Regions from separate parts of the Homo sapiens genome. Here region 1 is linked to region 2. Evidence: fine-mapped QTL for protein levels in blood plasma. Region 2 holds a variant in brackets. A gene starts in the other region. All regions are shown on their forward strands. Region 1 holds the start of TRIAP1 (TP53 regulated inhibitor of apoptosis 1). Region 2 holds the start of GLRX2 (glutaredoxin 2).

What was found. PIP is the chance, under the fine-mapping model, that this variant and not a neighbour inherited with it causes the effect. The UK Biobank Pharma Proteomics Project read protein levels with antibody pairs (Olink). The fine-mapping took linkage between variants from a reference panel, not from the people measured, so its PIPs are less certain.
Region 1: TRIAP1 starts here. The variant in region 2 is fine-mapped to the plasma level of the TRIAP1 protein (UK Biobank, PIP above 0.99).

Annotation. Positions count from the first base shown.
Region 1 is chr12:120,445,075-120,447,936 of GRCh38, forward strand. It overlaps TRIAP1 (TP53 regulated inhibitor of apoptosis 1), which reads right to left and starts at 1,310. Exons shown (of 2, transcript NM_016399.3): 1 at 1,152-1,310. The coding sequence starts at 1,298. GATC (glutamyl-tRNA amidotransferase subunit C) reads left to right here and starts at 1,370. Exons shown (of 4, transcript NM_176818.3): 1 at 1,370-1,487; 2 at 1,583-1,755. The coding sequence starts at 1,407. RefSeq lists enhancers at 492-1,339, 651-1,850, 1,065-1,614, 1,212-1,506, 1,340-2,185.
Region 2 is chr1:193,103,778-193,106,683 of GRCh38, forward strand. It overlaps GLRX2 (glutaredoxin 2), which reads right to left and starts at 1,637. Exons shown (of 4, transcript NM_197962.3): 1 at 1,487-1,637. The coding sequence starts at 1,605. RefSeq lists silencers at 1,426-1,525, 1,502-1,796, 1,576-1,815. The variant A/G (reference allele first, on the strand shown) is at 1,604.

The sequences.
Region 1 (2,862 bases), not on the chromosome of region 2:
ATTCAAACCACATACTTTTTAAAAAACAAGTACCGGTCAGGTGTGGTGGCTCACGCCTATAATCGCAGCATTTTGGGAGACCAAGGCAGGTGGATCACTTGAGGCCAGAAGTTAGAGACCAACCTGGCCAACATGGCGAGACCCTGTTTATACTAAAAATACAAAAATTAGCTGGGCATGGTGGCGCATGCCTGTAAGCCCAGCTACTCGGGTGGCTGAGGCATGAGAATAGCTTGAACCTGGGAGGCGGAGGTTGCAGTGAGCTGAGATTGTGCCATTGCACTCCAGGCTGGGAGACAGAGTGAGACTCTGCCTCAAAAATAAATAAAAACCAGAAGTACCATAATGAATAAATCAAGTGTAAGACCTGAGGGAGACTGGAAAAGGAGTTGTGAGGGAACCGTTAAAATTAAGTGAAATTTGAAAAATAATCATCACTTTGTGTTAGTGAAAGACTTAGGTTCAAATCTGGGTTCCAGGACTTACTGGCTATGTGACTAACTGTAAATGGGATGAAGACAGCAACTACCTCGGGGAATTGCTGTGAGGATGTGTTGGGTTAACTTATTGGAAGTGCTTTGCCCGGTGCTGTTCTTAACAATTCAAAGCAGTTCCACATCCATTGGGCCAGAATAAACATTTCCTGGCTGCAGTTGCGGGGACTGGTCAAGAGAGAGAAACAGGCTAACGAAGGGTTTATAACAACAAAAAAATGTGACCCTCCAGTCTGAATTCTGAAGTATAATCCCGCCCAGACCCCAGCAGTAATAGTGGAAAAGTGCACCACCTGCGAAAGAACCAAGGAAACCTGATGCTAGTGAACTCGGATTAATCACTTCCTATTTCTGGGTGTTAGTTTTTTATGTATAAAATATGAGTAACTATGCCCACCTTGCGAGTTTAGGGTGAACACCAAATGAACCAAAGGATGTGACTGTGCTTCTTGAAAAGCACTGCCCCAATATTTGTCATTCGGAGAGACACCCAAGTGGCCTCGGTGGTGATGGTAGGGGAGCGAGCTCCTGCCACTGGCCTCACTGCGACTTTTCTCCACCCTTCCAGTCCAGTCCCAATCCCCGTAAAATACGATGAGTGTGGTGGGACACAGCGCCGAGAATGCAGGGCCTGGGAACAGAGGCGGGAGGGCTCACCTGAACACACTGCTGGTAGCGCTTGAAGAGGTCGGTGCACGGGTCCCCGGAGCTGTCCCCCTTGAGAAATTTCTCGGCGAACCAGCGATTGAAGCACTGGTCGTACTCGCGCTTCATGTCCGTGCATGCCTCCCCCACACTGTTCATGGCGACAGTGGTGGCGGCGGCGACGACGGCGCACTCTGATGTCATCACTCTCAGGCGCGTCGCTCGGCGTTACGCGCGGGCGCACTGCGGGGGCCAAGGAAGGAAGAAATGTGGTCGCGGTTGGTGTGGCTGGGCCTTCGGGCCCCTCTGGGCGGGCGCCAGGGCTTCACCTCCAAGGCGGATCCTCAGGTAAAGGCCAGGGCCATCTAGGCGGGTGGCGGAGCAAGCCGGGAGGCACTTCGGAGCGCCGGTGACCCACACTCCCCGCCTCATCCCTCCTCCAGGGCAGTGGCCGGATCACGGCTGCGGTGATCGAGCACCTGGAGCGTCTAGCGCTTGTGGACTTCGGCAGCCGCGAGGCAGTGGCGCGACTGGAGAAAGCTATCGCCTTCGCCGACCGGCTACGCGCCGTGGACACAGACGGGGTGGAGCCCATGGAATCGGTCCTGGAGGACAGGTAAACTCGCGGCTGCAGCCCCGAAGCCTTGACCGTGGCCCGTTCGCAGCCGTTTAATGTGACGATTAGCGAACAGTTTTCCAGGGGGTTAAAGAGTGTTAGCAAGATTCAGGAACTTGCCCACAGTCACCTCGCGAGTCAGTGGCTTCACTCTTCCCCTTGTTCATTACTGATGCTCTCGCTAGTGTAAGTGGAAACAAAACCCGAACTGCTAATCACTGCCTTTGTTTTTTTTTTTGTTTGTTTGTTTTGTTTTTTTTTTTTTGAGACGGAGTCTCGCTGTGTTGCCTAGGCTGGAGTGCAGTGGCTCGATCTCGGCTCACTGCAACCTCCGCCTCCCGTGTTCAAGCAATTCTCTGCCTCAGCCTCCCGAGTAGCTGGGATTACAGGCGACTGCCACCAGGCCCGGCTTATTTTTTTTGTATTTTTAGTAGAGACGTGGTTTCACCATCTTGGCCAGGTTGGTCTTGAACTCCTGACCGTGATCCACCCGCCTCGGCCTCCCAAAGTGCTGGGATTACAGGTGTGAGCCACCGCGCCTGGCCTAATCATCGCCTTTAAGGCCCTACTCCATAGAGTCCCTACCTACTCACTCCAACGTACTCTTCTCAGTACTCTCCTTGGCTACCTTGACTGCTTCTCCAGCAAGACAAGTTCTTTTCCTCTCTAGATCTCTGCACTGGCCCTTCGTTTTTTTCCTTCCTCTCAGTATTTGCATGGCTGCCTCCCTCTTGGCACAGGTCTCAGCTTATCTTCTCAGAAAGGGCTCTCCTAACCACTCCAAATCCCTTCTCCCCTTCTAGTTAGTAACTCATCCTATTGGGTTTTTTCCCTAACATTTTAATGGACTTTTGTTCATTTGTTATATCTCTTTTATTAAAATGTGAGCTCATTATGTAGTTACTGTTTTATTCCTGCCTTGAATTTTTATTTTATTTGTTTTTGAGATGGAGTCTCACTCTATCACCCAGGTTAGAGTGCAGTGGCATGATCTCAGCTCATTGTAATGTCCACCTCCCAGACTCAAGAGAGCCTCCCATCTCAGCCTCCCAAGTACAGGACCACAGGCGCGTGCCACTTGGCCTGGCTAATTTTTTGTATTTTTGA
Region 2 (2,906 bases):
GCTTCCTAATAGTATTAGCAAGGAACACTTTAAAACAAAAAAAAAAGTCCTGTGCGCTTAACTCAGGAAGGAGTTAAGGGTAGCGAGCTAGGGAGACTGCAGCCAACCTGAGAGGAGGGTGAAGCTTTAAGATAAAAGAAAGTTGAGTTCCTGAAGCCTAAACCAGAAAAGGTTAGGCAGCACTGGCCTAGCCCTAAGGAAGAGCATTGGTGGAATAAATCAGCAAGCTGTATTTGGTTTATCAACTAAGAAAGCAAGTCCTTTCATCTCAGGTCCAGCACTTAAACTGTCATACCCAAACCATCTACTACAGCATTTACTACTGAAGGAGCTCCAATAGAACACAAGAGAATGTTTTCTTGGGTAGTGAGAGGAGGTAGGAGGTGCATTCTGAAATATTACCCAAATAAAAGTTTCTGGAAGACACCCTTTCCCTTCAATTTCTAGTTGACCTTGGTAAAAACTGTCGCGAACTATGAATAGAAACATGCACGGAGGAAGTAAGTGCACAATAAACATTTCATTTCAACACAGATGAAGCACCTAGTCATGCCACATTTATGGAGCGCCTACTGTGTGCTAAGTAGGCAAAGTGCTATATTGACCCCAGGGATACGCAGAAAAAAACACGGCGGGGCCTCAAAGAGCTGTCAAACACTTAACAGCCTGTGATTAGCCCTTCAGGAGGGGTCTCTAGCTTGGTCTGGAAAGTTAAACTTGAGATTCCTAGAATCTTGCAAAACTGATAGAAGCTCCCAGATCAAGTAGATAGCGAGACAGACTCTCCGGCCAAGTGCGCAGTGGCAGGCGCGGAAGTGCGAGCCGGCAGGACCGCCAGGCACCAGCCGCGCGGGCGTGGGCAGCACAGCCGCAGTTCCCTTCCACTGCAGGTCCCGAAGCCGCTGATATTCCAAACGAGGAAGTGTAAGGAAAGCACTATCCTCGGTCTAGCCGCAGGCGGCATCACCATCAGTCAGCCTCTATCCTAAAAGCTCTGGCCATTCAGCGGGAATCATCGCCTTCACTTCCTGCAGTAGGGTGGCTAAGTTTAGCAAACAAGAATGCAGGACGCCCGGTCAAATTAGAATTGTAACCAAACACCAGAAAACTGTTCCGTTTTTCCTATGTCCACTGCAGTATTTGGGACACACTTGGACTAAGAATCATTCGCTCTTTCAGAGAAATTCCAATTGATTGCGGCGTCTTGTATTTTATGTAGCAATTCACAGAGGGATGGCCTAAGTGAACATGAGTGAAGTATTTTCAACGCGAGAGTCACAGGCTCCTGAAGTCAGCACAGCCGCGGAGGGCACCCTTCCCTGCCCATCCCTCGAGCGCCTCTGCGTGTTATGACTCAGAGCCCACGCGCTAGTACGCCTCGCCCACCCGGCGCCGGGGCAAAGGGGCACCTCCGCCCACCGCTTTCTCCAGACCCCCGCAAGGCCTGCGCACCACGCCGCGGCACTCCTGCCCGCTGACCCCGTACCCAGAGGCCGCAGCTGCCGCAGCTCCCGCAGCTCCCGCCGCCCTGTCAAGCCAGCCTGCCGAGCCGCTCCTGCTCCAAACCAGCCGCGTCCCCGCCAGCGCCGCGCGGCGCCAAATC[A/G]TGGTCAGAGCCCGGATCTGCAGCGAGCTCTACTGCCGGACACCGCGGATCCCGGGAGCCCGCCTCCTCCGGCCCGGCCCCCGCCTTGCCCCGCCCCGTCCCGCCCCTCCGGACTGCCCGCGCCGCCGCCGGTCACCTCCTCGCAGCTGAGCGCGTCCTCCCAGGGCTGCCCGAGCGCTGGATTCCAGCGAGTGCCACCCACGTGTAAACATCCTTTAGAGGGGAGAAGCGGCTCACTTGCTTATCTCGAGGGTTCATCCGAGCCCCGCCTCTGGATTCTTTTAGGTTTAGGGACGCTCATAAAGGCTCCCAGGCACTTGGAAGCAGTGCATGAGGATGGTGGCAGACATGCTGGGGAAACGGAGGAGAAAAAACATGACCATCCAAAACAGAATCAAAGTGGTGCCTCAGATGTTTCCAACTACCTGTTACACAAGTTTTTGTGTGGATGAAATAAGAGCCTAAATATATCCTCTTATAATTAGGCAATTGGTCGAGACCCAATGTAAATTATGGGGATATTGGGGTTTACATCCATAATTAAAAGAAAAAATCCGGTGTTGAAGGTTTACTCCAAAGAAGACAAAGATTATTTCCCACCACCTGCCAAAAAAAAAAAATTAGGAAACAAAACAAAAGAAATTAGCACAGAGATGTTTCACCATGGCTTTGGAAATGGGCGATTGCTGTTGACAGGATTATTTAAGCCACTCAGTGGTGGTAATAATAGCCTTTGTGCGTCACTATTTAAGGTTGGGGGTAAGCCTTTATTTACTGAGGACACTGAAATTCATCTTAAAGTCAAAGGTCAAATGGTACATCTAAAATTCTAAACAATTATTACAACAATCCAGAGCTTTTTTGATTCTTCATGTTCAACTAAGTGTAAAATTCATGTTACCAAAGTACAAAATAAGAACTTGTATTTCTGACAGTTCTTTTCCAACATTCAAATGGGCTATGTTTGATTACTTAATAAAAGGATGGAAGTTAGTTGCAAAAATAAATACCCCCAAAGGGTAGGAATTCATTCTTTTTAAAGACAAATTTGACTTTGAAAATTAAGGCATGTGGCCAGGCGCGATGGCCTGTCCTGTAATGTGGCCATTACAGGACTGCCCGCTGACCCCGTACCCAGAGGCCGCAGCTGCCGCAGCTCCCGCAGTGGCCAGTCCTGTAATCCCAGCACTTTAGGAAGCCGAGGCGGGCGGGTCACCTGAGGTTGGGGGTTCAAGACCAGCCCCTCCAATATTGGTGAAACGCCGTCTCTACTAAAAATACAAAATTAGCCGGGCGTGGTGGC